Linked DNA regions of Homo sapiens. The protein of the gene in region 5 purifies or fractionates together with the protein of the main gene of each other region. This does not show direct contact. Each region holds a gene or a part of one and is shown on either strand. Other genes may lie near its edges. The genes, in order: TBCD, ALG6, CP, STEAP3, ACBD3, PPM1H and WDR12.

The links.
Region 1: the proteins of ACBD3 (region 5) and TBCD fractionate together in Homo sapiens (co-fractionation; one large-scale study listed by BioGRID). This does not show direct contact.
Region 2: the proteins of ACBD3 (region 5) and ALG6 purify together in Homo sapiens (pull-down; one large-scale study listed by IntAct). This does not show direct contact.
Region 3: the proteins of ACBD3 (region 5) and CP fractionate together in Homo sapiens (co-fractionation; one large-scale study listed by BioGRID). This does not show direct contact.
Region 4: the proteins of ACBD3 (region 5) and STEAP3 purify together in Homo sapiens (pull-down; one large-scale study listed by IntAct). This does not show direct contact.
Region 6: the proteins of ACBD3 (region 5) and PPM1H purify together in Homo sapiens (pull-down; one large-scale study listed by IntAct). This does not show direct contact.
Region 7: the proteins of ACBD3 (region 5) and WDR12 fractionate together in Homo sapiens (co-fractionation; one large-scale study listed by BioGRID). This does not show direct contact.

What each region holds. Positions count from the first base shown.
Region 1 is NC_000017.11:82,922,024-82,926,835, reverse strand, and holds part of TBCD (tubulin-specific chaperone D), read right to left. Parts: intron 3,185-4,812; coding exon 3,103-3,184; intron 1,898-3,102; coding exon 1,779-1,897; intron 437-1,778; coding exon 345-436; intron 1-344.
Region 2 is NC_000001.11:63,435,412-63,439,437, reverse strand, and holds the end of ALG6 (dolichyl pyrophosphate Man9GlcNAc2 alpha-1,3-glucosyltransferase), read right to left. Parts: intron 2,616-4,026; coding exon 2,418-2,615; 3' UTR 885-2,417; downstream 1-884.
Region 3 is NC_000003.12:149,214,488-149,219,299, forward strand, and holds part of CP (ceruloplasmin precursor), read right to left. Parts: intron 1-4,812. UniProt on the Homo sapiens protein: Multifunctional blue, copper-binding (6-7 atoms per molecule) glycoprotein. It has ferroxidase activity oxidizing Fe(2+) to Fe(3+) without releasing radical oxygen species. It is involved in iron transport across the cell membrane.
Region 4 is NC_000002.12:119,260,555-119,264,025, reverse strand, and holds part of STEAP3 (metalloreductase STEAP3), read right to left. Parts: intron 970-3,471; coding exon 688-969; 3' UTR 1-687.
Region 5 is NC_000001.11:226,158,606-226,163,417, reverse strand, and holds part of ACBD3 (Golgi resident protein GCP60), read left to right. Parts: intron 1-1,728; coding exon 1,729-1,887; intron 1,888-4,059; coding exon 4,060-4,234; intron 4,235-4,812. UniProt on the Homo sapiens protein: Involved in the maintenance of Golgi structure by interacting with giantin, affecting protein transport between the endoplasmic reticulum and Golgi. Involved in hormone-induced steroid biosynthesis in testicular Leydig cells.
Region 6 is NC_000012.12:62,928,079-62,932,890, forward strand, and holds part of PPM1H (protein phosphatase 1H), read right to left. Parts: intron 1-4,812. UniProt on the Homo sapiens protein: Dephosphorylates CDKN1B at 'Thr-187', thus removing a signal for proteasomal degradation.
Region 7 is NC_000002.12:202,873,761-202,878,529, reverse strand, and holds the end of WDR12 (ribosome biogenesis protein WDR12), read left to right. Parts: 3' UTR 1-4,269; downstream 4,270-4,769.

The DNA.
Region 1 (4,812 bases), on a different chromosome or scaffold from region 5:
GGGCATATGGCGTGGCCCCAGGTGCGTGTCTGTCAACGAGTGCAGAGATCATTCCAAACACTGGCTGGCAGGGTCAGCTCCTCTTTGCCAACCTTGGGCCAGGACACATTCTCCAATTCTCCAAGGGGCCCAGTGTCCCTAAAGAAGTTTAACATTCACTACGACTATGACAGCAAGAGAATGAAAGAGCCTCCAGCAGCTGGGACTGACGATCCTCTGGAAGAGAGGAAACCTAGGAAGTGAAGAATCATAAGTCCTGCCTCTGAGCAAAAACATCCCCCTTAGCGTTCATCTGCTGGCCTTTCAGAGACTTACGACTTTAGGGAGGAACTGTTGGGACTCACCTCGCAATGGCCTTCAAGCCGTCTCTCCTGGACTCAGCAAAACTTACGTCCTCGGGGGAAGTGTGGGTAACTGCTCTTAAACCTGTGAGAACCTGGAAAGCAATAAAGAATCACAGAAGAACCATAAGCTATAACAAAGTGCACTCTTTAGGGAGGTGGCAATGTTGGCCCGGAGCCACAGACCCCACACCATGAGATAGGCAGCTCCTGGCACCACCTTCCTCACGGCCATCCATGGCCCCTGGTACAACCCAGGAAGGACACCCGGGGAGAGGTCACCTCCAGCCTCTCCACGGCCCCCAGTACAACCCAGGAAGGACACCCGGGGAGGAGTCACCTCCAGCCTCTCCACGGCCCCCGGTACAACCCAGGAAGGACACCCGGGGAGAGGTCACCTCCAGCCTCTCCACGGCCCCCAGTACAACCCAGGAAGGACACCCGGGGAGAGGTCACCTCCAGCCTCTCCACGGCCCCCAGTACAACCCAGGAAGGACACCCGGGGAGAGGTCACCTCCAGCCTCTCCACGGCCCCCAGTACAACCCAGGAAGGACACCCGGGGAGAGGTCACCTCCAGCCTCTCCACGGCCAGCCCCCACCCCAGGGTGTCACTGGGGGTCTGGCCACACCCTACCTGAGGTCCCCCCCTTTTGTCCTACGCTGAGACCTGGGGTATTGACAAAGGAAGCTGCTGGGTCCCGACAACCTCATCTGTCATATCTCCAAGTGATCCTGTTTCACATTTATCTGTGTTTCAACTGGATAAACCCCCACATGCGAGTTTTAGATGGCATGGCGGCTGCGAGGCCCACCCGCCACACAGGCAGGAGTCCGTCTGGAGCTGCAGATCCTGAAGTGCCAAGGCTGGATCCCATGGGGAGGGAAGGGCGTGGGGAACCCAGTGGCCAGGGCCTATTCCAGCTTCAGACGCCAGGTGGCCGGAGGGGAGACAAGCAGGAGTTCCCGGCAGGTTGGTCAGTGGGACCAGCACCACAGGAAAGCGTGAGAGAGCAGGTCACTGAGGCCAGCGTGGGGCTGACCTCTGGGAGGACGTGGAACCACCTCTGCCCCGACCTGGATGCAGGATGCACGGCCGCAACCAAAACAGGACCCGGCTCCACAACGCACAAAGGCAACTGTGTTCTCCTCACTCTCGGCAGCTGCTTCTACAAACAACACCTTCTCCTCCCTCCCAGAATTCAGCTTTTTCAAGTCTGTCCTCTGACAGCAAAGGGTTCGCCAGGGCCCTAAGGGGCCACAGACCTTGGGTGCCCTCTGCCCCCTTCCTCCTGGCCACAGGTGCCGGTTTCCAGGAACCCCCTCCCAGCTACAAGCACTGATGGGTTTATTAACGGCTGGGCCTACCTCATGCCCCAACACACGAGGCTCCCACACCCTCGCCCTAGGCCCCGTCCACTGCGCGTGGCCAGCCTCACCTGCTGGAGCCGGCCTTTCAGAAGGAAGCCTGGAAGGGCGCCCAAGGCCAACGAGAAGCCACAGCGAGTCATCTCCTCGGGGTTCCGAAGCTCAGCCAGGTACTGCGTGATCAGCTCCTCTGAAAGGAAGCAACGAGTGTGAAGAGAGGCCCTCTGCTGCCCATCGTGTACAGCCACACCCGACGTGTGCCCCAAACAGGAGCAAAGCCACAGTGAACAAAGGAGGAGCCGCCTGAGGTTCCCAAAGCAGACACGTTTCCAAAGTGGCCTACCTCAAAATAGGAATCAGAAAGAGAATTTTTTTTTTGAGAGAGTCTCATTCTGTCACCCAGGCTGGAGTGCCGTGGTGCAAGCTTAGCTCGCTGCAGCCTCAACCCCACACTCAGCCTCCCAAGTAGCTGGGATTACAGGTGTGTGCCACCATGCCAAGCTAATGCATGATTTTTATATACTTATAATAATTTTAAGTGGTGATTCACACACTTTTGACGTGATTAATAATGCATGTTCTATCATATGACATAAAGGAACACTGTGGGCCAACATATGTGCATGTGACACTTTAAAAATAAAAGTACGATTCATGAAGCAGATCCCTCGAACATGATGTGCGAGAAGCAAGCCTGAACTTCAGCACGGGGGTGCAGGATGTACAGTGAGGCGGCACAGCAGCTACGCACGGGACACGGCGTAAAGCCAGCCTAATGCTACTTTCATAAAGAAGGAAAAAACAGCAAAATGTATTAACGAGTGAAACACACAGCAGAAAAATGTCACGGTGCATACAAAAATTCTAAAAACACTGACCGAGTGCAGTGGCTCACACCTGTAATCCCAGAACTTTGGGAGGCTGAGGCAGGTGGATCACCTGAGGTCAGGAGTTCGATTCCAGCCTGGCCAATGCAGTAAAACCCCGTCTCTACTAAAAATACAAAAATTAGCCGGGTATGGTGGCAGGCACCTGTAGTCCCACCTACTCAGGAGGCTGAGGCACAAGAATTGCTTGAACTCAGGAGGCAGAGGTTGCAGTGAGCCGAATCACGCCACACCACTCCAGCCTGGGTGATGGAGCAAGAGGGTGCCGTCAACAGAGACGCGTCCCTGCTGAGCCACCTGTTCAGAGCTGATGCAACATCCTGGGCAGCTGCAGGACCTGCCCACAGCTCCTCGGCTGGGAACCTGAGACCCGAACAGTCCCACTCCAGCCATGATCGTGGTGGCTCTGCTCCACTGCACAACCGAGGCCTCCTCCGTGCCCAGACACTCCCCAGCAGCTTCCTGCTGGAAGCCCCTGGAGTCTTCAAGAAAAGGGCTCCCCACTCACCCTGAATTGCGGGATCTGCCTCCCCCGGCTCCTTCATGTAATATTCACTGCATAGAGCAGCCAGGGCCGAGACTGCTGCATCCTAAAACAAAGGCAGCACGGTGAGCGCACAGCAGCTCTGCTCGGAGAAGCCCCCGGCCAGGGACAGAGCAGGTCACTCTGAAGTCGGAGAAGCACCTGACCAGGGACACCGTGGTCACCCTGAGGTCAGAGCAGCCCCTGCCTGACCAGGGACCCAGCGGGTCGCCCTGAGGTTGGAGAAGCACCCGGCCAAGGACACAGCAGGTCACCCTTGAGGTCAGAGAAGGACCTGACCAGGGACACAGCGGGTCACCCTGAGATCTCGGCACAGCAATGACTTTCGAACCAAACCAAAAGAACCCCTAAGTCATGCTACTCCTTTCCAGCACGCCTGCTCACCATCATCTGTCAGATACACGCATCACTTTACTACCACTACAACTAAGAAACTGAATGGATAACCTGATTATTCCTTCCACAATGTCTGTCTTCTAATATGGAACAATAATAAAATGGAGCATATTTTTCTTTCCCAGAAATAGTTATGAAGAAAAAGGCATACACTATGCACCCAGAGTAACGGGGCAGGGCCTTCAGGCCAAGCCACGTCAGCCTCATTTAGAGAGACAGGGCTCCGGGGGCGCACTGGGAACAGGAGTTGGGGCCGGACAGCAGGAGACCCCCGGGAACCCATCCCAAGGCCACCAGGAACCGTGGTGGGAGGGACGGCAATTGCTGCACAGAGCAGGAGCGGGCAGAGAGTCACCAGTCCCGCCGCGTGCGGGGCTCAGTGCCACTGTCTCCTCGAACCCCCACCTCTGCCACCTACGGAGGAGCCTCTCGTGACCACACAGCCAGCAAGTGGCAAACACCAAACCCACGTGTTCTTTCCACCGCTCCCCCGAAGCCCAGGAGCCGAGGCCAACAGAGCAGCCTTGGAGAGGCACTGGGGGCGGGGCAGGTGGGGGCCATGAGCAGAGGAGGTGCGTCGTCTACAGGGTGCTGCATTCCACGAGTCACCACCTGTGCCAATCCCAGGGGCAAAGTGCACCAGCATCATGGCCAGTGTGAATTAATCATGGACTTTTGAAATAAAATTTTGAGGCACTGATCATGATGCATTCAAATTCAATTAGTAGAACGGTACTTGGATCCTACAGAATGTTCAAGTTCCTTAAGAAAAAAAAAATAAGAAAATTGAAGATGCTAAGGAAAAAGAAATGCTAAGCATGGAGGAAGTCAGAGAATTACAAGACACCTAAATGTACTTCCATTCTTCATCCTCAATATCAAAACCTAGTCAACGTTGGTAACCATGGTTTTTTTTGTTTTTGTTTTTGTTTTTGTTTTTGAGGCAGGGTCTTGCTCTTGTCACCCAGGCTGGAGTGCAATGGCGTGATCTCGGTTCACTGCAACCTTCGCCTCCCAAGTTCAAGCAATTCTCCTGCCTCAGCCTCTTGAGTAGCTGGGATTACAGGCACGCGCCACCTCGCCCCGCTAATTTTTGTATTTTTAGTAGAGATGGGGTTTCACCATGTTGGCCAGGCTGGCCTCGAACTCCTGACCTCAAGTGATCCACCCGCCACTGCGCCGGGCCCATGGTTTCTTATCTATGCAATGAGATCAGCGTTACAGCTCTGTGAGTCCAAAGTCCACCTGTAACCCCCAGGACGGGAGGGGAGGGCAGGT
Region 2 (4,026 bases), about 160 Mb from region 5:
TGCCCTGATCTTCCAATGAACATAACAGAAGAGAGACCAATTGAGACTTGAAACCATTGCGTTACTTTAACCATTATTTAGTTATATCCTATCCATCTCTTTCTCTCTGTTGAACAGAGAGGTTCCTTTGGCTGCCCTGACTTTTGTAAATGTTTCACTCAATTTGTTGTGGTTTATCATTTGGACAGAATGCTACATTGGGGATTTTTCGCCCCCACTAAGTCCTCAAGGGAAAATGACTTCTGTATGCCTCATATATGATACATGAACATACACCCTATTCTCTTCATTTTAAGAAGCAAACCTAAGTTTTTTGGCAGCTGAGAAAACTGCATTTCTCAGAAATACCTCCTCCATCTAAAACGTACTTGAACATAACTTTGAAGGGCTTATTTTTTGACAGGTATATTAATGAAGAAAGTGAGGAATCTATCTTTAATATTTTTGCATAACCTATATGTATTTATATGAAAACATCCCTATAGCCCTGAGTTTAGCTAAGAGAAATGCTTTGGACCTTGCCTACTTCTGTGATAATTCATCACTGGATATTTTTGATATTTTGCTTTTTTTTGAGATGGTGTCTCACTGGTCTCAAGCGATCATCCTGTGTCAGCCTCTCAAATACAGACCGCTGTGCCTGGCCTCTGTTTCTGGTATTTTGTTTTGGTATTTTGGAACCTAATCCCTCTAAGTTCAATATAAACTCTTAAACCGGTTTTTAATAGATACGAGGGATACTTATAAGATAACTGCTACAAGTCTCTATAAAAACTATAGTGCAACTCAGTATGATTAGATTAAATCATCTGAAAAATGATTTAAGAATTTACCTATATGGTACCTTACAGAATTTACCTAGATGATACCTTGAATCAGGTGCATTTCATTTTACTAATATATGTACATAATACTTTTATTTCCAAATAATAAAGTTATGCTACTCCAATTATTTATAACTTCCTCATCATTTATCTAAGTCAACATTCTATGTTAAACACAAGTGTACTATTACAAAAAATATTTTTAAAAATAAAGCTACACCAGCCAGCCAAGATGCTGACATTTGGGCACAGTGATTACAGATGGTGACCATGGACAGCAATGTTCTTGCTGATTCGGCAGTGATTCAAGGCTGCTATTCTGCGTTGACCTGCCCTTTGAGTCTTTATGCACATTTGCTTTGAGAAAGAAACCTTTCTAGATTTTTGCTTTGTCTAAACCCACTTCCTTTACCAGACTTAGAAACACATACCTTCTTATATCAGCCTGTGACTGTCCGTGTCTAGAACCAGTTTTTTTTTGTATGTGGTTTGATTTGCACTATATTAAAATATACCACCACTTAATATAGTTTAATGGCTATCTTATGAAAGAAGAAATATATTCCTTAAAAAATGTTGATGGGAAAATGATTATCTTTATTACAGAGGCTAAAGAAAACATATCTTTATATGAGAAACTGCAACATGGATATCATGTATTATTTTTACCAGTTGAATACTATAATAAATATTGGCTTCTGCTAATACAGGGTGATACAGTATTAATAGGATGAAGTTAACATGAATCAATGCTCTGGCAGTGGTAACCCTGAACCATGTCAATAATAATATATATATAATATAATGTTTAATTAAACAGAATGGTTCTGGAAGTTTAGAACCAGTGATTATGTGTAATTTAGAAGACTTCACTCAAACCACTTAAAGTTAAGTTAAAGCTTACATTTAAATTCAGGAAAATTCATTTTTAATTGTATTAAAATATGCATTCTTGGAAATAAATAAGATTATGGTTTATTTGCCTTGTTAAAACAATCAAATTTGCATGTGTAATAAGGCATATTCAAACTTCAAGCAGTTTAAATTGCCTTCTCAGTAATTAAAAAGATTATCACAAATTTAATTCCCTAAGATATGACTTCTAAACAGTGAAATACACACTACTTGCATTCTAAAATGTAAGTTTGAATACCAAAATTAGTGATTTCCATTAAAAAGAAGGGGCTCAATTCTCCCATGAAGCTCACTATATGGTCTGATGAAGGAAGTAGGTTTAGACAAAGCAAATATCAAGAAATATTTCTCAGTTTTTTAAAGACATTTAAAAAGTGCATTTCCTGAGTAAACAATGGGATTAAGGACATGTTTCTCTTTTTTCCCCACTTGAATAGCTGTGAATAATAAAACCACATGTTTTGGCCAAGCAGTACTTAGACAAGCCTCCATTGGTCTTTGGTCTCCATATACATTTATTTTGTGTAGACAACAATGACTTTTCACCATTTCCTTTCCTGTGGTTCCATGGTTCTCAAAATGGTAATTTCATTTATACATAGCAAAAAGTTCACAAAACCTTTCAGCACTGTTCACATTTTCACATTTGTTTAGGAAACAATTTGTTTAGGAATACAGCTAGCTGATTTTCTTCTGATTTCTTCCACTTTTGGAATCCCACATAATAATAATGTTAAAGTATACCAAGAAGAACAGGAAGTTCAAGCAAGATACAAAACACACCAATACAGAAAACAAGTCCGGTAGTTTCTGAGGAGGATCCAGTGTGACAGTCATCAACGTCAGAAGCACCATAGTGATGACTGAGATAAGAAACTGCAAGGAAAAAAAGGATTACTGAGTAGTATAAAAGGTGAAATTTAAATGTGCTGGAAACATTGACTTGTAGCTATTAAATGAGCAGAATTAAAGGTGAGGGTTGAGGGTCTAATTTATTCTGGTGTATCTCAACTTTGACTTCCTATTAGAATCATATGAGGAGTTTTTAAAATCTCAATGCCCACATCACACCCCAGACCAATTAAATCAGGCCTCAGTACTTTTTAAAGCTCTCCAAGTGATTCCCATGTGTAGCCAAAACCTGAGGACCCCTGTCTTCTTATACTTCCTACCACCAAGGCACTGAACAAAGGTATCTGGGACAAATATTAATGCTAGTCAGGGTTAAATTTATAACATCCCCTGGGGTCCAACAGGATATAAAATTCTAAGCTAATGGGTACAAATGTATAGGTAGCTAGAAGAAATAAAACCTAGTGTTTGGCAGGTCAGTAGGCTGAATATAGTTAACATTAATGTACATTTTAAAATAGCTAGAAAATAATAAGTTGAATGTTCCTAGCATAAAGACATATTTTTAAGGTAATAAATAGCCCAGTTACCCCGATTTGATCTTCATGCATTACATGAATGAATAAATGAATCAAATTATCACATATACCCCCAAAATATATACATCTATTCTGTATCAATTTTTAAAATTCTAAGCTAACCTTGAGAACCCATCTGTGAAAAAGTTTTCCATGGCAAATGGAAAATTACATTTCATATTCGCTAAATGCTTTCAATGAGTAAAGCACACGAAGGCACATGAAAGAAAATGAGGTCCTCTGGCCTCAAAGAGTTTTCCATCTACTGAGGGGAATGTTAAATAAAATCACAAAGTCACACTGGCTTAAATACCAAGCTGAGTAGTAAAAATAATTAGCACATTTATTGTAGTTGTGTGGTCATCAGTTAGTGTGGTCTTCTCTAGGCCAATGTGCTATACAATAGAACTTCCTGCAGTAATGAAAATGTTTTGTCTGCACTCCAGTATAGTAGCTGCTAACCACATGTGGCTATTGGGCATTTGAAATGTACTTACTGTGACTGAGGAACAGAATTTTTATTTAAATTTAATAAGTTTAAATTTATATATATGTCTAGTGGCTACCGTACTGGACAGACTGTGACTCTAGACTGTGAGCTCCTTTAAGACAAAGACCAGCAAGATCTTACTCATTTTATCCCTAGCACAGTACACAGGTATACAAAAGCAGTATAAATAAATGTAGAAAGCAGTGAGAAACAGTAGTGACTTCCATGAAGTGGGTGGGACACAGAACCCTAAAGGATGCCTTAACTGCTGGCTACATTATGACAGTATTGGTAAGATCTAAATAGAGAGTAATGCAGTGATCATTCCAAATGGAAAAGCGAGGATAGGCGCCAAGAAAGCTTACAA
Region 3 (4,812 bases), on a different chromosome or scaffold from region 5:
TGACTGAGATGATGTTTCCCTGTCCATCCCCTGTCCTGGTGGGAGGGCTAAGCTAGAAGTTAGAAAAATAAAGTGTCATTATTTGCAGCCTGTGTGGAGCAGCAAAACTGTGAGTATACCCTCATTTTTTCTATTTGTTTTCACTTTCTAATTGTTTGTTGCCATTTCCCAATTTGTTAAAGCAAAATAGGAAAAGATTGGGAGAGACTTCATGGACACAGGTAGGCATGGGAAAAGGGCAAGACACTGGGGTGAACTCTGTCCCTAAACCCATAGCAAGGAATGCACAGAAAGAGTCTTAATAAATATATGTCTTAACAACAGCAAAATTGTTGCATCAAAGACTACTAAGTTTAAAAGCAGAGAGTCATTCAGTCCATATGACTGAGAGGAGGTCAATAAGAGTGCAATTTCAGTTAGGTACACAACTGCAGCTGCAAAGTCTACAGTACAAAGGTACAATTCCACTCTGGTCCCACCGGAACCCTGGACCAATCAATCTCACAGAGACTTGTCTAAGCCCCAGGGTAAATTTTCTTAAGAGTCTGAACACACTTTTATTTCTGAGAGATTGATTTGATAATATTTGGAGACTTTACTCCATGCTTTACCATGTCCTATTGGTACACATCTTACATAGGCCAAAGTTAAAAGTTAGCCCTCAAATTCTTAAGGCTTCATTTAAATAAAATGTTTCTTTATATTTTCTGAATGTAAATACACTTTGGCATACATCATGTCCTATTTTGATAAACTATAGCAGGCTTTGTCAAAATGATTTTATTGCATTGAAATGCTCCTGTATTAATCATTTCCTAAAATAGGAAGAGCATTGCCATAAACAAATACCTAAGACCAAGACCAAGACCTATATTGCCTAGGCTTTGTAACTAATTTTTCTAGGCAAAGTTTTTTGGGGGGGTTAAAATTGCTTTTAAAATTATTGATCTGAAGGTATAACATATCTAGGCGTTTTAACATCTGAAATTCCTTTTATACACATTGCAATATGCAAACTGCTTTTTGCATCTTGCCTTTTATTGTGAAAAAAACTGTCTTAACCAAACTGGAAAATATTTTACACTGTGTGACACTTTGGGAGAAGTCTATTTGTTTATGCTTTGTCTCCAAATAAACATTAAAAGGTCATTAGGGGCTCTCTATTTAATTTCGACAGCACAGCTTGAGGACAAAGGGCCAGTTACTGGAAGCTTGCAGGAAGTTTGCCAGTTAGATATTCAGCCACAAGAATCTATTATAGCTGTTCTTTCAACCAAATAATTCACATTTAATTGTAGTTCTTCCTGTTGACAACTGTAGTATGTTCCTTTCTACTCATTACTGTAGACATATCTCCCTTCAAGTAATCAATCACATTCTCTCTTTTTAGCCCCTTATTTAAAAAAAGAAAAGCCCGCTCCTATAATTTCTGGTAGTCTTAGACCCAGAAATGAGTTTTTAATAGTAGCATAACTATTTTTTAGTATTGCTTTGGTAAGATATTAATAATGCTATTCCCTCCCATAAATTTAGAATTCACTCAAGTGATCTTGGTTTATGCTTAGACGTGGTTCCCAAAACTTGGGTATTATAGGTGAAAAGTTTCTGGATTTTTGACTTCATTAATTGAGACATATATTTTTTATTGCTGCATAACAAATTATCACAAAGTAGGTTAAAACAACACCCATTTATAATCTCACTATTCTATGGGTCAGAGTCTGGCATGGTGTGGCTGGGTTCACTGCCTCAGGCATCACCAAGCTGAAATCAAGGGGCTGCTGAGCTGAGTACTTATCTGAGGCTCTGTGGAGAAATCTGCCTAGCTCATTTGGGTTATTGCCAGAATTCAGTTCAGTGGGGTCATAGAATTAAAATCCTTGTTTGCTTGCTGGCTATGGGCCGAGAGCCTCTCCCAGTTTCTTAAGGTCACCCGTATGCCCTCCTAGGTGGCCCCTTTCATCTTCAAGTCAGCTTCAGTGTGTGGACTCTTCAGATAATCTCACTGACTAAAACATAAATCATGAGAGTGATGTCTCATCCTGTTCACAGGTTCTGGAGATTTAGGATAGGATTTCTTCTGGGAGCCACTTTGGAAATGCTGCCTACCATAAACAAGAATCATAAGGAAAACAGTCAAAAATTAACTGCTGCAAGAATATGGCAGAGACTCAACCTAGGTATATATAACACAAATTCAAGTGATTTGCCGGTTCTAACCAGCCTTCCTCCACTGGCGCAGCATGAATGCAGTACCTAGTGAATTTTCTTTTGTCTGTGTTCTCAGGAGAAATAGGAACTTGATAATAAATGGAATTTGGTCAGTGTGAAATGTTAGTCACTTAATTAGCTCTTCCATACAAGCTGTCTTGTGTGAAGTGTTTGGAAGTGTACTGCACTAGCTATTGCTTGCTTTTTTTTTTTTTTTTTTGAGATGGAATCTTGCTCTGTCGCCCAGGCTATAATGTAACGGCGTGATCTCGGCTCACTGCAACCTCCACCTCCTGGGTTCAAGCAACTCTCCTGCCTTGGCCTCCTGAGTAGCTGGGACTACAGGCGCACGCCACCACACCTAGCTAATTTTTGTATTTTTAGTAGAGACGGGATTTCACCATGTTGGCCAGGCTGGTCTCAAACTCCTGACCTTGTGATCCACCTGCCTTGGCCTCCCAAAGTGCTGGGATTACAGGTGTGAGCCACCACGCCCAGCCCTATTGCTTGCTATTTTTTATTTGGCAACCTTGGAGAATGAGTCATTTAAAGTAAATTTTCCAGAAAATTTTAGCTAGTAATTGTACCTATTTAAGAATCATTTAAAAATTTAAAAATCATTTTTGAAGGGATGCTATATAACTTGGGAGGCCACTAGGCTGAGACAACATCAGCGCCTTGGGTTCCTACGTAAGCAAACCAAAACCCAATTCAATGTAGTAAACAGTAAAATGAAACTTCGAATCTGTAACTAGAGACTTTACCAATCAGAAGCCGCCAACTAACATCTAACTAGGGAGTCTCCACTTTAACCAGTCTAATATCTATTTCTTAGTCTGAGAATACGTTATAAAAGTTTCCTCCCTGCCCAGAGGAGCATTGACAGAACTGCTTGTGGTCTTAGGGCACCCAATTGCTGTGGCTGAATGCTTGAATAAACTTGTTAAACTTTCAATATGCCCAAGTTTATCTTTTAATAGGGGTAAAATGAATGTCATTAGTGCAAGCTTTTTCTTTAAAAATATTTTATTTGCTTCCCTGTTTTCCTAAACAGCGGATATAATGGAAAAAAAGTAACTTTTTTGATAACAATAGTGAAATGAACACTTATTGAATACTTATTATATCCTGATCACTCAAGATCATAATTATAGTAATTATGATTACCGTAAGGTGGAATGTTCTTTGTTGTCTAGTTTTTTGGTCAGGATTTGAGCTGTTATTTCTTCTTGGTCATTAGGCCTGCTTATAGTGACATCTTCACTGTACCATTTGTTTTGGAAACCTCTAATGGAATGAAAAACCCGGTAATAATGTTTGTAAGAACTGTATGTTAAGAAAGTTGCCAAGCCTGAGTGAGAGCCTATGAAGTCAAGTATAAAAGAGTTTTGTGATGGCCGTTCGTATACTTAAAAAAATTTTCACTTATTTCCAGCTTCCTAGAGGTCATCAGAAAAAAAAGTAATCTGAAGATAAGAGAATTACTATAATTTTTGCTATTATATAGTCAATTAATTCAGTAAATAATTAACTAATGCCTACTATGGACCCAGAACACACTATTGTGTTTACTAATTGTTTTTATATGTATGTCATTTATTTTAATTTGAATATATATAACTTAGGATCAGGAATTATCTCTTATAAAGTCTTTAACTACTTACTGATGTGTTGAAGTGACAGATAAGGCACTGACCCAAGTAAATAGCAGTACTGAGTATAAGGAAATTATTTTCCACTTCACTCTTTTAGAAATAAATATTATTGGCATTAATACCAGAGAAGTAAACTTTATTTTTTTAGTCCCCCCCAAAACCTATACATTTTTCTCTTTTAATATCTGCCAGTGTTTTCAGTTGCACTAACCCTGCATATAATCCCCTCAGGTGACTTTTCTATCTTATTCTGTTACCTGATTTGTTCTATAGCATGAATCTCTCCACATGAGGAGCAAGGAAAAGTTTTTACAATACAGTCTATGATTTTTCCTATCTTCCTATGTATCTTTTATTTACTCATTTAAACTTATTCAGAAATATTTATTTAGTGTCTCCTATATTCTAGGTACTAGTGACCAAGCACTAGTACTTGCATATGCATATACTAGTACTCTCAATGCATATTTTCCTGTTCATCATCCCAGACCTTCAAGATCAACATTCAGCTTAAACTCGATTCTTTACCTAAAATTCATATTACACTCTTTCACATCTTATTCTTCAGCCCATTTATTTCCACTCCTTTTTAGTCATCATACGATAAGAAGTGCCAACCATGTCTTGTGATACTCCATCATCCTTCACTGACTGGGCTAAACATGCTGCAAATCTGGGACAAAGAAGGGACCAAAAGGTTGCTATCTGCACACATCTATGCAAAAAGTTTAGCATAGTATTGGCAAAATTGCTGAAGCTGTATTCAAAATTCACTGGTAAGATATATGGGGGAAAAAAATCACAGAGAAAGCAGTCCCACCTAGAGTTTGCAAAACTGTAGCATATTGTTGAAGCCAGAGGAGATGTTAAAGTCACAGGACAATAACAAAAAGAGAGGTGGACTTTGCAACTAGAAGATGCTCCATTTTTCCTTTTAAGGAGCCTT
Region 4 (3,471 bases), on a different chromosome or scaffold from region 5:
AGGGAAAATGTCTCCCCCACTCAGCAAGGATGAGGTGGAGCAGCTTCAGCCCAATCCCTCCATCCTCCCACCACCGGGCAAAGGACCAGGCACAGACTCCAGGCCGACTGCCTGATTTTCCTCCTCCCCAGGCCTCCTGCTGCTGCCCCAGGTGGAGGGAAGAGACCAGCCGCTGCTCACATGCTCCAGGGATGGCTCTGGGCAGAGCCGTTGCCTTCCCTCCCCTTCAGAGCCCTAGCTCTGCAAGAGCCTTGGGGAAGTAGCAAAAGGGAAGTTGTGGGGGTGGGGTGGGCAGGGATAAATCGAACCCACCACAGCACAAGCCTCTTCTGTACAAAAAGTGTGTGTATATCTCTGCAAATGTCACAATAGCATGATCTGCTCTTCTCTTAACGTACGGCACTTGTTTTTAAATCTACAAGTTGAAATCTCAGAGACCCAACTTTTTAGCTAGCTATGTATAATTGCAAATCCTGTTATATATGTGGAATATATGTAAATACATATACACATATGTGTGTATATCATTCTGAATAGTACTGCATACATTTGAGTCCCAGGAATTTGGACCTCAAACCTCCTATTTGCACACAGTTATACCACTTTGCACCACCAAGAAAAGAAAACCTAACGGGCTCAGGGCACCGTCCCTCGTGTGCCCGGGGTCCAGAGCCCAGGGCAGGCACCTCATACGTGGCTCGTCTTCTCGGCCAGGGCGTGGTCTGTGGGCAGCGTGAACTTGATGGTGCTCTCCCTCTCCCAGCCTCTCCGGATCCTGGCGAGTCTGCGGCTGATGCAGGGCAGGAGAAACAGGGCTTTGGCCAGGATGACGACGCAGGGCACCAGCAGCGTGAGCGTGAAGGTGGGAGGCAGGTAGAACTTGTAGCGGCTCTCCTCGAAGGCGCGGGTCCAGCCGTAGGTGAGCGTGTGCAGTGTGCTCAGCACGAGGGCCACAAAGCCCAGTGAGGACTGTGGAGGGAAAAAAAGGCTGGAGTGAGGGCGAGGGGATGACAGATGCAGTGATCCTGCCAACGACTCATCTGCTGGCCTGGCGGAGGGGAAGGAGGGTGGCTTTAGTACTCACCGCTATGGGTTGGAACCCCAGTCCTGTCACTCTCTTAGTGTGATCTTATGATAACTCTCAACTCTCTGTGCCTCAGCTTCCACAACAGGAAAATGGGAATAATGCTTCTATGCTGAAGGTGTCTAAGGACCCACCAATTCACACGGATTCCATACAATAACTATATGACCATGCTTTTTCCTTAACTTTGTTATTTGTTATCTCTGGAGGCTGCTGGATGATTTCAGATGGAATTAAGTTCAAAGAAGTTTAAAAAACATTTAAGGCCTGCTGCGGTGGCTCTCGCCTGTAATCCCAACACTTTGGGAGGCCTAAGTGGGTGGACTGCTTGAGCCCAGGGGTTCAAGACCACCCTGGGCAACATAGTGAGACCCTGTTTCTACAAAAAATACAAAAAAATTAGCCAGGCTGTGGCAGCATGTGCTTGTTGTCCCAGCTACTTGGGAGGCTGAGATGGGAGGATCACTTGAGCCCAAGAGGTCAAGGTTGCAGTGAGCCAAGATTGTGCCACTGCACTACTGCACTCCAGCCTGGGTAACAGAGCAAGACCCTGTCTCTAAATATATATATACATATACATGTATATGTGTGTGTGTGTGTGTGTGTATAAATTTTACTAGTTATGTGTGTATTTTAATGTATATTAGAGTAACAAGTGTCTGCTTGCATACCAAAATCATAATTTCACAGATAACATTTGGCCTAAGTTAAGATCAGACAAAAAGTGGATTGATTTTAAATTAGCTTGAAGATAAATGCAGAGTAAATAATTTACAGATGGCACGTGGATTTGGCACCAGTAGCGAAGGGGACTCACGGGGCCTGTGGTCTGGGTGACCTGGCACCGTATAGAAAGCCCCAGAACACCACACAGATGCCCTCTGTGCATGCTAGACCTTCACCTCCCACCCCACACTGGGTTATAAACAACCCGGGTGGAAACCCCGCTGGGCCTACTCTTCCATCTGGAGGAGATTAGTGACCGTTGGGAGAAGAGACCATCCCAACTCTAAATGGAAATGGTCCCGGCCATTTTACAATGGAGCTTCACACCCCTTGAACAATGTGTGGGCTTTTGTGGGTCACTTCCAGCCGAGAGTGGCTGATCCACCACCCAAAGCATGACTTTCTGTAAGAGATGCAATGTGAAAATGGCTGGGAAGTGCTGCTCTATGACTCCAGCCTCTTGGCATGTACGAGTTCTCGTGGACCACGAAGGAAGAGATGCAGGTTCTACTGTTGGTGCTGGTTCAACTGATATGAACCCTGGGCAGGCGACTTAATCAACTTCAGTGGGAGATAAGTAATTTCCAAAGCTAAAGTCAGAGGGGGAAGCGCTGAGTAGTTGCAGTAGCCTCCATCTAGTCCCCTAGACAGGGCAGGCAAGTGACACAGCAGAGGGCACCGAGAGCGAGGGAGTCGTGGCACAGGGGTGCTCTGACTGAATTCTGCTAGCACTGGTGAGCCACTGAGAGCTTTGGGAGAGACCTCCCACGTCTATTACACAGGGATGGAAATAGCGATGACCCATCAAGCAATGAACACATATGCATTTTCTCCAAGGAGACATTGCGAGGGTGTAATTTAAGTGTGGCGGCACACTGAGACCTCTGGGTGGTCTGCATGGACTGAGCCTCCTGGATTCCCTTCTAGCCCAGCTTGTTGGCATCAATCCAGAGCCTCGGCTGACAGACGCTTCTCATTTGCACTCCCCTCAGAAGTGTTTCTAAGTGGGTCTGATTCCACATTGGGCCCCGTTCTTGCTCCTCCCTGGTGTGTGTGTGTGTGTGTCCCTTCATTTCCTGCTCCAGGACAGACACCAGGACAGTGAACGTCAGTGAGTGAAAGAACATGGTGTGGGAGAATTGCTTGTAAAGCTTTTGCTAAAGATAATAATAAACATTTTCCAATGGCTGCACACTACAATTTCACAGACAGGTTCTCACGTTCAACATTCTTGGGCCCAAGTAAAATAACCAAATAAAACCTTCTCTATCCTTCCTCACCCTCTCTGGTTCTTCTTGGCTTTGTGTCCATTTTTGGAATCTTCTTGGCCCAGTCTTTAACAACTTCTGGCTCACCACGAAGAGTGAGGAAGCCACGATTGGCTTTATGCTGTCACCCACAGTGAATTCCTATCATTTTAATGTGGTCACCTCCCAAAGAGAAGACTCCTTGACTGTCAGTTGCACATAAGCAAATCCTTGCCACTTCCAGAAGTGTCTGTCAAGAATTCCAAATCCCCTGCAACTTCTGAGCCACCCCAACTTTTCTAAATTCTAATCTCTTAGTGTGGAAGACTGTGGTTAAAAAAGTCCCCAGCACTGACCATCAAGAATAAGTCTTGGCTGGGTGCGGTGGCTCACGCCTGTAATCCCAGCACTTTG
Region 5 (4,812 bases):
TGTGTAGTGATGTTGGATCAATCAGGTATCGCTAGGGTGTCTGTAGAAGTATCTATATATTGCTTTTTAAGTTCTTATTTTAATGATATATATGCATATTTCTCTTAAGCATTGTCAAAAGTTACTACTCAACATATAGAGCTGCGTTTTCGTTTTAAAAATATACTTTTGTCATGGGATAAAGTCCACATAGAATTATTTTAAAGTGTTTAAGAGTAGACTTCATCTATCCTGAAGCTTAAGCTCTGGCTTGTGAACCTTCTTGCTCTGTACCAGCTGTGACACATTAAAAGTAGGTCATGGCCGGGTGCAGTGGCTCACGCCTGTGGTGGCTCACATCTGTAATCTCAGCACTTGGGGAGAACGAGGCGGGCAGATCACTTGAGTCCAAGAGTTCAGGACCAGCCTGGGCAACGTGGCAAAACCCCATCTCTACAAAAAAAAAATACAAAAATTAGCCGGATGTGGTTACAGGTCCCTGTAATTCCAGCTACTCAGGAGGCTAAGGTGGGAGGATCATTTGAGCCTGGGAGGCGGAGGTTGCAGTGAGCCAAGAATGTGCCACTGCACTCCAGTCTGGGTGACAGAGTGAGACCCTGTCTCAAAAAAAAAAAAAAAATAGGTCATGTTATTACAATATTTTGAGACTTGGCTGTGGCTCAGGTAGTTGTTAATCACTTATAGGAGTTAGAGGGGAGAAAGGTGAGGTAGCCCAGACAATTCTCGTGGTAGGTTTATGAAATAGTGTCTTATCTGATACTCCTTAGAAATCTTCCCTTTCATCCTGTCTGCAGGCTCCCTGAACACCATACCACTCTCAGACCCGGAAGATGTCCATTCCTAGCACAATAGGATCTGTTCTTTTTGGAAGGGTCTTGTGGGGTGGGTGAAAGCTGGGCAAGGGCTGCCCTGAGAGGTTAACCGTTCTTTTTTAAATTAAAAGCTTTACAAAAAATTTTAATTTCAGAAATAATACACAAATATATGCAATATAAAATTTTCATTTATGGCAGTATATGAAACACAAACTGAAAAAAATCTTTTTTCCCACATTTCTTTTAATTCCACTCTCCTCTGCATAGATAATAACTGATAAATTTAGGGTATGTCCTTCCAGATCTTTTCCTTTGTATTCACCTTTTTTTTTTTCATTAAGCAAGTGTATTACATGTCTTTACATATTAGGCAATGTATTTCTATCCTTTGGCTCTGCGATATTTCAGGGTGGATTTTTTACTTCTGTACACGTTTGTCGAGTGCTTGTTCTTTCCAGCACTGTGCTAAGCCCTGAGGATGTCGTGGTGTGAGATAGGCAGTCTCTTCCCCTATGGAGCATCTAGTTTAATGGGTAATGCAGATCTATTGCTGAATGTATCACACAAATTTAATTATAATGACAGCAGGTATTATGAAGGAAAAGCTTTTAGTGCTGTGAGCATATATTAGAGGGGATCCTTCAGGGTATAGGAATATCATAATGACTTAAGTAGTTTCTTATGATGGACACATTTCTGTTGCTGTGCAACAATAATTATTCTTGATGTGATTTGTATATTGTGCGATTGATTCCCTATAAGTTTCTGCTAGTAAAGTGTATGTATTTTAAATTTTGATGTATATATCCACATTGTTCTCTAAAAAGGTCATGTCAGTTTTCCCTGGGAGCTAAAGTTTTATTTTTAAACAGGATTCAACGTATAGGGTTCATTCTCTATCTTTGCCTTGTAGGAAGGAGGAAGAGGAGCGAAGGCGGCGTGAAGAGGAAGAAAGAGAACGTCTGCAAAAGGAGGAAGAGAAACGTAGGAGAGAAGAAGAGGAAAGGCTTCGACGGGAGGAAGAGGAAAGGAGACGGATAGAAGAAGAAAGGCTTCGGTTGGAGCAGCAAAAGTAAGTTTATTATGTGGCTTATGTTTTAAAATGAGAAATGGAAAAAAAATAGAATAAAAATAAGAAATGAGCGGGCCAGGTGTGGTGGTTCACGCCTGTAATCCCAGCACTTTGGGAGGCGGAGGCGGGCAGATCACCTGAGGTTGGGAGATCACCTGAGGTTGGGAGATGGAGACTATCCTGGCTAACACAGTGAAACCCTGTTTCTATTAAAAATACAAAAAATTAGCTGGGCGCAGTGGCATATGCCTGTAATCCCACCTACTCAGGAGGCTGAGGCAGGAGAATCTCTTGAACCCAGGAGGTGGAGGTTGCAGTGAGCCGAGATCGCGCCATTGCACTCCAGCCTGGGTAATGAGTGAAACTCCGTCTCAAAAAAAAAAAGGAATGTATTAGAAGGTTTGGGGGTTCACTTGCAGAACCCAGAGATTGGAAGCAGGAGCTGAGGTTGCTTGGTTGCGCTCTCTGTTTCTTGTCTCTGCTTCTCTCAGCTTATGTCTCTGCTTCATCCTTGCTCTCTGCAAATTGTCAACTGTCTGCTTTGGCATATGCAAGGCTGTCCGAGGATTTATTTGGTCTATGTTTCCATGCATCTGACAGAGACTGGCTGGAATCTGTGAGACCCAGTTGCAGTTTCCCAGGACAGAGAATCTTGTTGGTCCAGTCTATGTCAGATATCCATTTATAGTCCTTAGTACAAGATTTGGAGGCTTCAACTATTGCTTACTCAGTAAGGGCTTTGAGACTCAGAGACTGACAGGTTCTTCAAGAGGGAGCTGTGGGTACAAGGAGGCAGTGATTAACACCCATAAAACACTGGGAAGTAAGTCTGAGTTTGTAGGGGTGGCATGGCTTGTAGGTTAAACCAGAGAACATGAGAGTCCATTGATTTCTTCTCATTATTTCTGGGTAGTTCCTCAGAAAAAGGTTTAGTGCTAGCCTCAAACTAATCCAGGCCCTCATTCAACTTTGGAGAAAGACTATGAATGCAGCTCTTTTTTGGGGGAGGTTGTCCTAGGTGGATCGAATGTTGTGCTGTATGTAGGAGTTTGTGAGGCTTTGCTTTGTTATCTATTAATAGATGGCTTTGAGGTCTCTGTTAAGTTGGTCACATAAGTAAGTTAAGAAGCATGTGGTTGCTGGCTGTGGTGGCTCATGCCTGTAATCCCAGCACTTTGGGAGGCCGAGGCGGGCGGATCACTTGATTGAGGTCAGGGGTTTGAAACGAGCCTGGCCAACATGGTGAAACCGTCTTTACTAAAAATATAAAGATTAGCCAGGCGTGGTAGCAGGTGCCTGTAATCCCAGCTACTTGGGAGGCTGAGGCAGGAGAATCGCTTGAACCTAGGAAGTGGAGGTTGCAGTGAGCTGAGATCACGCCACTGCACTCCAGCATGGGTGACAGAGTGAAACTCCGTCTCAAAAAAAAAAAAAAGAAGAAGCATGTGGTTTATCTATAAAAGAATATGAGTATCTCTAAACTAAGCATGCCAAGATATTTTCAGTATTTCCTCTATTAAGACAGGCTTTAAATTAAATGCTGTGGACCCTTAATTTTTCACTGGCTTTATTTATACTTACCAGGGCCACCTGTAACATCTTCCAGCTATTCTTCTGCCTCTTACTGTTTTTTATGTATTTAGGTACAGAAGCCATAGCCAACAGTTAAATACCTCATCTATGTCAGAGATGACAATCCATCATCTTAAAGCATCGTGGTAAATTAGTGTAGCTCTAGAGCCAAACTGCCTGGATTTGCATCAGGCTGTAGCATCTGCTAGCAGTATAGTCTTGGGCAAGTTACTGAACCCTCTGTCAGAGGGTTGTTGTGAGGACTAAATGGGTTAGTATGTGTGAGTACTTTCAACACTGCATGGCACATAGTAAGGGCACAATAAATGTTAATAATTATGATGGTGGTCATGATGATGATGATCATATGCTTATCTTCCATCCCGAATTTTCCTGGAAAATCCTAAGTAAAAAATTAGAGGCCAGGCTTATTTTCTTAAATCTTTCTTCTGGACCCAGAACACATACTAATTGGTGTACATTACTAGCTTAGTTGTTTTTAAGAGTTACAGACTGTAAAAGTAAGTAATAAGGACATTTTATTTTGTCATGAACAATCTCCTGTAGCCAGACTAGTATATATATTTTTAATGTTTTTAGGCAGCAGATAATGGCAGCTTTAAACTCCCAGACTGCCGTGCAGTTCCAGCAGTATGCAGCCCAACAGTATCCAGGGAACTACGAACAGCAGCAAATTCTCATCCGCCAGTTGCAGGAGCAACACTATCAGCAGTACATGCAGCAGTTGTATCAAGTCCAGCTTGCACAGCAACAGGTACGATAGACAACCCTAGAATTCAGCCTTAGAGAGAGTTTTTAGTTTCATTGGAACCCAAGTTCTTTTTTAACAGTCGCAAATGAATTTTGCATTAGTTAGCCTCTAAGGTGTAAAGTAACTTTTGGGTGATCTTTTAGGCAGACTTGAGAATTGCACAGGCAATTGTGAGAGAAAATATGTGTTATCGAAGCAACCGATGATGTTATATTGTCATAAGGGTATTTGGGAGTTGTATGGGTTGAGTGTCTTTACTGTGAGTCTGGCATAGACCCTAATAGTGGTCCTGGAACATGAGGACCTGAGTAACTAGCCATAGTTCAGAGATGTCCTTCAGGCAGTGCATTGTCAGAGGCTTGGACAGCCTCCAGTGGGAGGACTCCCCTGCCCTAAGACCATGGGCTGGTTCTGCAGAGCTAGATTGGGTCCATTTGACTTTGTGTTAGGCACCATAGTTAGGCAGTGCTCATAACAGCACATTGCTATTCCTCCTCCAACTGCCTGCCCCCAAGTATTTTGCTTCCACATAGGAGAGGTTGGTTTAGGTGAAAGAACATGGGACTGGGAGTCTCATAACA
Region 6 (4,812 bases), on a different chromosome or scaffold from region 5:
TCATTAAATCCTTATACATAAAGTGCTTAATAGAGAACCTACACACAGGACTAGCTCAACAAATGACTATTGCATTTAGCAATTTTTAATGCCTCTAATAAAGTATAAATAGGGATAATCCTATCACTATATGGTATATGGGAGATGGGCCAAACAAATCAAATGCTATACCGTTCTTAAGCTAATAATTTGCAAAGTATCTACTGTAGTACCAAACTGGAAAGCTAGTGAAAACCACTTATCTAAAAAAACAACTTGGGAAAGGCTCCTCAACTCTTTGCCATAACATTATGTTGTATAATTAGGTTCAATCCTGCATCTTTTGCACCATAATTAAGGGCATCTGCTCTCCTTACATGGTCAGTAGGAAACACAGTCAATTATGGAGGGTCACAGAAGTAATGCAGATAAGTCAGAATGAAAATCACAGTTAAATAACTGCAGTCCCACCTACTCTCTCCCCCTTCTCCCCCATCTGCAAGGATGACAAAGATTCTCTCCTCCACCAAACTTGAGTCAGGCCTCTCTTCTCTACTAAGTCACAACGTTGGCGCCAATCCTGTTCCTTAAGCAAGAATCCTGTTAAGTCAGGTTAGCAAGAATCCCCCAAACTTGATACCTGCTCAAGTTCCTCATTCCCCACCTTTGATGTTACAAGTCTTTGGTCTGCTTTCAGCAAGAATCCTGCTAGGTCAGTTGAGTTTGGTTTAATGTCCCCGCTGAGTAACTTTCCATTCCACTGACCCCTCACACTCTACTCTTTGCCTACAAGTACCAGCTGTCAACGTGGTATTGAGCTGGGTTGTTTTCCTATATTGCAACAGACTTGAGTAAAGTCTTCCCCAGCATTGTAACAAGTGTCAGAATAATTTTTTTTCTCTAACAGCAGGGAAGGTCTTGGGCCTTCAGGTACAAAGCTAATCATAAGCTGGTTGGAAAAAACAAGTTTGCTTCCCTAATGTGACTTAAAGGCTCCAAATACTGAGATTTAAAATTACCCAGAAGCATTAAGACATTAAAATCAAAACAAAACTCCTGGTGCTGGTCCCTTTGAACCTTAATAGTCTATTTCATTTTAATTTAATTTCAAAGAAAGTACAAAAGGGGAAAGATTATGCTATAAAATTTTCTTGAGGATAATGACTATGTCTTATTATATTATGAATCCAGCATGGGACCAATGCTGGACACATAGTAGGAGTGCAATGATTTCATCAATTGAGAGAAATAATGGAAGCAGATGAATGATTATTTCCTGAAAAATGATAGCAAAAATTCAAGGGGACAAGCTAACTAATCCTCCCTTTAAATTAGGCAAATCACAGAACTATAAAGGCACCAGAGTTTATTTCTACCAAACATTGAGAATTAAAAATAACTCTTGAACATTAATGTATTTTTAGACAACAATTCCAGTATGCAGTTTTACATTTTCAACTAGTACTGCTGTAACCTTAATTGAAAGCACTGTATAGTGGGGTCATAGCAGAGATGCGGATGTCTACCTAAACTGGGACTGAAACATATAGTAAACACCCCCCTGCATGGTTAAACCCTTTGCCTGAAGCATCACCAGTCCTTGAAAGAAGCTGATGCATTTTCCTAAGAAAAGAGACATCCCCAGGAGCTCCACCTAAGGGGGATGATTTCTTTATAATGCTATATCTGAAATATGAAGGAACGCTTAGCTGTCTGCTTTAAAATAGGAAATTAATACCTTTTGCAAGTCACCAGAAAGGTAGCTGAAATAGCTCAGGCTACTCTGGACTTGTAACTCATCTGCAGATACCCTCACCCACTCCTTTTTATCCTTACATAAGAGTAGAGAACCTCAAGTTTCTTCAGTTGCAAAAGTCAAACAGGAAGTTTCCAAGCAGGAGTTCTGCAAAGAGGTATCAGTCAGTAAGAGGGGCAGGTATGCCAGGAAAAGTTAGAAGGGAAAAAGAAAGGCCAGGGGATTTCCGAGCTTTGGGGCAAGAAAGAAATAGCGGTTTTTGTGTCTTCACCACCACCCAGCCAACTAATGCCATTTATTGGTAATAAGCAATTAGTGCCAATGACCAAGGAGACAGACAGCCTGCAGAGTCCAAAACAAATCCAAATACCTGTAGGCAGCTGGCTGGATTTAAATAAGGTTATTCCATCAAAAATTTCATAATTTTCAACTCTGTGAGACATACACTTATATGATATACATTTAACAGACACTCTCAAAGTAGCTTTTGTTTCTACTTATGTCCAGGGGTACTTTTATAAGAAATAGGAAAAAAAATTTATAGTTATAGCTATAACCGAAGTAAAATTAGCTATACTTAATGTATTCTTTCTGTACAAGTAAACAAATGTATCACTGATAAAAACCTGAATATGATGCATTAACATACACAATATTGTTGCTCAAAACCACAACACATTCTTTGGCATTCCCTACGTCTGTAGTTTCAGGCACAAATTCCATGCCTGCTGGCATCTCTAAGACCAACTGTTTCATCAACAGGATAAAAATCGGGCAAACAGGTAAAAAAAGAAAAAAAGCCAAAATGGGTTCCCAACCCATTATAAAAATGAACCAACCTCCACTTGGGTGGTATTTGAGAGAAAGGAAGTAGCTGCCGCCTGGTCTCTGGGTCAGACTGTTGCTCCCCAAGGGCTTTATCAAATGAGCAAACCAAACAGGCTCAGCCACTGATTTCAAAGCCAAACTTAAAACTTGCTAATGCATGTTTTTAGAAAGATTTTAGCTTAGTAGATGTTATCTATAACTACAATGCTTTACAGAGCTTTACAACCTTGCAAATACCCCTTAGCCAAGTGGCTAAACTTTTCAGCTGTAATAGGAAGCTTTTCAAGAGCTGGGAAATTCCATCTAGGACAATGCCAATGAATACTGAAATGAACGAAAATCTTCAGTTTCTGCAACCTCAAGTCTAGCAGGGATTGCTTACGGCTAATTCTCTAGTTCTATAGCCTATAGAGTCTCTCTTCTTGAAAGGGATTAACAGTAAGTGGCAAAAGATTAGACCATTTCTCCTTAATTTTTCTACCATCTCAAAGGGTCAGTCATCAACATTAACTCATTGACCAAAAGATGTCAATTTTTCCTCCCAAGGAAGGCTTGGAACGTGACTCACTTTCTAGAGAGGTAAACAGATCACTTCTGATTCAGGCATTAGCTCCTTAGTACAGTTCTTATCACCACAATTTGAGCAATCTTCCTACCTATTCAACCCCTCTCAGGTACCTTCTAGTACAAAGAGAACAGAATTTCTTCTCCCAGTAAATCCTGTAGGAAAGGGCAGCATTACTGGTGGCAGCTTCTGATCACAGCCACAGTCCCTACTTGTCTTTCTCTTTCCTTCCCTATTTCAGCCATTTTGATCATTCAGGATGCATTTTTGCAGGAAGATAAACTAACAGTTCAAGATATAAGGAAGCGGTACAGTATATTATCTGACAGGGTTAAAGGTGAGAAGAGAGAGATGGCCAAGACTTTAGTGGCTATTCCTGGGTACAGATGAATACATCATAATTTAATCTACTGTAGAGAACGAGTTTGGTGTTGCGAGCTCTGGAGTCAGACTGCCTGGGTTCACACACAGGCTTGACCCTGGGCAAGTTGCTTAATCACTCAGTGCTTCTGTATTCTCAACTATAATATGGAAATGATAGTGCCTACCTCATTAGGCTTTTATGAAAATCAGATGATATAAAACAGTATAAGCACTAAAGAGTAAGCATTAACTATGTTAGCCATTACCAATAGTATATATTTAAGAAGAATGAGGTAATTCTGTGTTTACTTATGAATACTGTTAATGACATAGTGTTTTGTGAAAATGCTACAGAATAATATGCTTAGTATGAGTCTATTTTGAGAAGAAAAAAGAAACGCATGATATGTATTTATGAGGGCATCCAAAGAAGTCTGAAAGCCAAATATCACCCAAACATTGAACCCTCATTACTCCTAGGGAGTAGGTGAGGGCTGGGGAAGAGGGGCTGACTTTTTTTTTTTTTTTTTAAATAGGTCTTTGCTTGAATTATCACACATGTATTATTTTTGCCACTAACTTTAAAATTTGTAACATTTTACAGTGGCCTTCCTAGGCTTCAAGTTGAATATCTCTCATGTTTTATTCTAGGAAAAAAAAATTAACTTTTTAGGGATGCGGAAATGGAGGCCCAGAGAGGATGGGGGGAGCCCTCTAAGCACTCTCTCATGCGTGTCTCATTGCATCCTGTGCCTACCATAGGCATGCAAACACTCTGAAATTCGTTCTTTCCTTTCCCTCATGCTTATCTGAGGCTTTCCTTTTACTGTGTCCAAACGGCTTCCACCTTCAGTGTTTCAGTATCTTCTTTCCTACCTCTCATAACTTTCTCACCATTGCCTGCTTTTCCTTCTCGCCTTGACAGGCGCCCTCGCCCTGGGAAACTCACTGGAGTGGGGACAGATCTCAGGCGTTTGGCAGTCACAAGGACCCCCATCTACACAATTATACCACAGGGTATGCCTCCAAGTTGCTGTCTCGTAAAGGGTCCAAATGGGCTTTTTTTTTTTTTTTTTTTTTTTGAGAAGGAGTTTCGCTCTTGTTGCCCAGGCTGGAGTGCAATGGCGCGATCTTGGCTCACTGCCATCTCTGCCTCCCGGGTTCAAGCGATTCTCCCGCCTCAGCCTCCCGAGTAGCTGGGATTACAGGCATGCGCCACCACGCCCGGCTAATTTTTGTATTTTTAGTAGAGACAGGGTTTCTCCATGTTATTCAGGCTGGTCTCGAACTCCTGACCTCACGTGATCCGCCCGCCTCGGCC
Region 7 (4,769 bases), on a different chromosome or scaffold from region 5:
AGCTCCAGTTACCATTTCTTAAAGTATATTTTAATGCCAAATAGTGAATAAAGGTGGCCAGAAAATTCATGCACAGAATCCTTCTTTTTCTCATTTTGTGCTGATTGGTATAAATTTTATTGTATTTGTAGTCTCTGGAAATCTTCTAACTTTGAGAGGACAAAGATGAATTCCTAGTCCTGTTTTGGATGGTCTTCAAATGATCCTTAAGGGCAGTTATTTAAAATGTCTTTCTTAACTCACCCAACCTAGGCTGACCGAATGTAGTCTGTATAAACTAGATGGTTAAAGATAAAGAAGCCTATATATCAGATGCATAGACAAAGAATAAAATGGCATCCAGAACTGGTCCCCACCTATTCCCAATCCTGGTTCCACAGCAGAATACATTCATAGTTCAGGCATTCTTCCTTGAGATAGATATAATGTAAGTGACCAAGTCTCTTGGACAAGTATTGTCTCTGATCAATCCCTGCCAAACTCCTTTCCTTGGTTAACTCAAGTGGTTAGATCTTACTCCCTGAACAGAAGGAATATGAGAGGTCAATACATGCCTAGACTATTCAGTCCTCTGATATTGCTCCACACCCTTTCCCTCAAAAGCCATGAGACCTTTCAATGGTCCCAGTTCCTCTACCAGAACACCAGAGATGCCTGCTTTACATGGACTTATATATTCCCAAGAATCACTTGGATAAATGAGTGGTGCTGCTTTCCCGTGGTTGGGGAAAAGCTAGGAACCTGACAATGCAGTGCTCAGAACCTGCTGACCGGTACTAGTTATGCTGTCTTGCCATAGTAGTGCAGTTCTTTAAAATGTTGATACTTGCTCTCTTATCAAAGGTTGGTTTTTTTGTTTTTTTGTCAAGACAGGGTCTCACTATGTCACCCATACTGGAGTACAATGGTGTAATCTTGGCTTACTGCAACCTCCACCTTCTGGGCTCAAGCTGGCCTCTCACCTCAGCCTTCCAAGTAGCTGGGACCACACCCAGTCAATTTTTTATTTTTTATTTTTTAATTTATTTTTATTATTACTTTTTTTGTAGAGAGAGGGTTTCGCCATGTAGCCCATGCTGGTCTTGAACTCCTGGGCTCAAGCTGTCTGCCCACCTGGACCTCCCAAAGTGCTGAGATTACAGGCATGAGCCACCGCACCCAGCCCAAATAAAGTTTTAAGAAATTACTTGGCCAGGCATAGTGGGGCCTTTGTAGAAAAACATAGCTTTTCTATGAGAAGATGATCAATATTTTCTTTTCCTTTGAATTTGGAATTACCATTTTGGAACTGTTGTCAACAATGCATAATAATATATCAGAATGCTTCCTAGTATATTATTGGAGAAAGAACAAACAAAAGTTTAAATTGATATAAAATGCATATAATGGAACAAGCAACCCTGCAAAAAAAAAAATATATATATATATATACCATCTGGGAATTTCTGATAATAACATTGAAATCTGTTCACACAGTCTAAAATTCTTTTGATGTATCGTAGTTTTGAAAAAAAGGTAACAGTTTACTATATATAACAAATATAAGGAAAATATTAAATTTTTTGAAAGATACTAGTTTTTATTTTTGTTCATTTTTTAGAGACAGGGTCTCACTATGTTGCCCAAGCTAGAGTGCAGCGGCCCGATTATAGCTCACTGCAGCCTCTAACTCCCGGACTCAAGGGATCCTCCCACCTCATCCTCCTAACTAGGACCACAGGCGCATGTCACCACATCTGGCTGATTTTAAAATTTTTTTGTGGAGACAGTCTTGCTGTGTTGCCCAGGCTGGTTATGAACTCTTGGCCTCAGGCAGTCCTCATGCCTCAGCCTCCCTAAGTGCTCGGATTATAGGCATGCCACTGTGCCTGGCCAAAAATACAGATTTTTTAATAGATATTACTATGGCTCCTATTCTTAAAGGAAAAAATATGACATTTTAAGACTATATGCAAGGGATATTCCAATAATATCTTTTTTATTTAAAAAGCCACTAATTAGAATCAGATTTCATTAGGCAAGTGAAATCCAGATTTTACTAGCCAGAAACTGCCAGGTGTAGAAACAGCAAGAACATTTTAGTCACTTCATTGTTGACATTTTTGACTATCATAGATTAAGTATCAAACACAATAACAGTATTTTGTTATATGAACCAAATATATCTCTTTTTACGAGACATAGTCTAGCTCTGCCATCCAGGCTCAACTCCTGGGTTCAAGGGATCCTCCTGCCCCAGCTTCCTGAGTACGTACCTGGGAGTACAATTGCATGCTGCCACACCCAGCTATTTTTTTTATTTTTGTGGAGATGGCGTCTTGCTATGTTGCCCAGGCTGGACTCCAACTCCTGACCTCAAGCAATCATCTCACCTTGGCCTCAAAAGTGCTAAGATTACAGGCATGAGCCACTGCATCCAGCCTGAACCAAATATATCTTTATTATAACTTAGGAGAGAAACGTTTTTGGCTGGTTAGTTTTACAGAATTAAACCTAATGGTTGTTCTAATAGCAGTTCCAATGATTTGCAGATTTGAGGAAGTAAATTATTTTCTTACAGTGTCCATAAAAGTAACAATGAAACTATATCCTACCATAATAATCCTCTATAGGTAATAAATTATTTGCATTTTATAGGAGAGAAAAATATATGTTAAAGTTTTTGAACAGTCACACAGGCAGGAAATAAATGGCAGTGAATTTGAACTTGGACTTATCTTGGACAAGCTCTTAACTGGTATATATTTTGTCAATCTTATGTCGTGCACAAGAATGATGTTTTTATAAATGGAAAGAATGAGTGTGGAAGTGTCTTCACTTGCCTAACAGAAAGGTTATATGTGGCTGGGCGCCGTGGCTAACGCCTGTAATCCCAACATTTTGGGAGGCTGAGGTGGGCATATCATCTGAGGTCGGGAGTTCAAGAATAGCCTGACCAACATGGAGAAACCCCGTCTCTACTAAAAATACAAAATTAGCCAGTCATAGTGGCACATGCCTGTAATCCCAGCTACTTGGAAGGCTGAGGCAGAAGAATTGCTTGAACCCAGGAGGTGGAGGTTGTGGTGAGCCAAGATCGCGCCATTGCACTCCATCCTGGGCAACAAGAGCGAAACTCCGTCTCAAAAAAAAAAAAAAAAAAAGTAATACATAAATTTAAGTGACATTTGTGGGTACTAAATTACAATAATATGTTCAGCTTTGCATTTTTTTGCCTTTAAAATTAATTTCAATTTTAGCGTGCCACTAAACGTATTACTGTAATAGTATATAAATGTATAAAGATCAATTTCTGTATATTCTAATAGGAATTGTATATAAGCAAAAATGAATTTTAGAAATTATCCTATTATTCATGTAATTATGTCATTCATGTTATTTAAAGGAAACCACAATGCAGACAGGTTAAGTACCTAGTGTGAAGGTATGTAACCAATTAATGGAGCTGTGCGACATACATCTGAGTAATAAAGACTACAGAGAAAGTATCTTGTTAGGTACTATCTGATACAAAGTTTAGAAACATGTCAAACAATTCTATGTATAGTTGGTGAAAGTGTAATAACATGGCTGAGACTTAATACCAGATGAAGTTCAGTGGTTTCAGGGGGAGGAAATAATTTTTAAAACGATGTCGATAACACTTCACATTTAAAATCATCATAATAATTCTAATTCTAGAATTGTGTCTAATTCTAATACTGTTTCTAGCTTTGCTTGAATAAACAGAAATGTAGTAGGGAAGAGACAGAATGTTTAGCTTGCAGTATCTAATTACTCATTTGGGTATCTGGGAAGATAGCTCTCCATGGCCCCACTGTCACTGACCTATAATGCTTCTCCTGACGTCTTCGGTAAAATCCAACAGATTACAAAGAAACTGGAATGCCTTGAAGAAATAGAGCTTTTTGTGTGATGTCAGATTCAATAGACCTCTAATCCTTAGTAAAACAGTACAAAACAGTAGAATAATTTTTAGTGTTTTCTAATATCAACTGAGGTTTTATTTGGGAGATTAACCAGAGGTTTGCACAAAAACAAAAGTGAAGACCATTAGTCTTTAAAGAAACTAAGACTCTAGGTTTGGATCCCATTTGTGGAGCCCTACATTCCAAGTCATCTAATGTTCTTGTCTAGTTAGCTTGTAAAAGTCTATACAATGGAGGAAAACCCCTTTTTTCCCCTTAGTATAAGTGTATTATATGTTGATAGAAAGGATAGAAAGTTAAATAACAGTTCAGTAAATGTACTTCTAAATGAAATTTAAAAGTACTTTAAAGGTGTTAAATTATTTCACTTTCTAAAGAGGTTTTATGCAACACTAAAATGTAATGACTGAGCTGCCTCCTTTTGTTAAGAGACTAGTGCAAGTAGAGTCTTGCTCTGTCGCCCAGGCTGGAGTTTAGTGGCACAATCCCGGCTTGCAACTTCTGCCTCCTGGGTTCAAGTGATTGTCGTGCCTCAGCCTCCCAAGTAGCTGGGATTACAGGTGCACGCCACCACATGGGGCTAATTTTTGAATTTTTAGTAGAAACAGGGTTTCACCATGTTGGCCAGGCTGTTCTCAAACTCCTGACCACAAGTGCTCCGCTTGCCTCAGTCTCCCAAAGTGCTGGGATTATAGGCTTGAACTACCACGCTCTTCCTAGTGCAAGCCATTTAAACATTGTATCCAACAGCTAAAGAAAGAATTCATTCCACAGGCATTTATGAAATATGAGAGACTTGACTCCTGTCCAGGAGAAGCATCAGCAGCTAGCTCTACATTA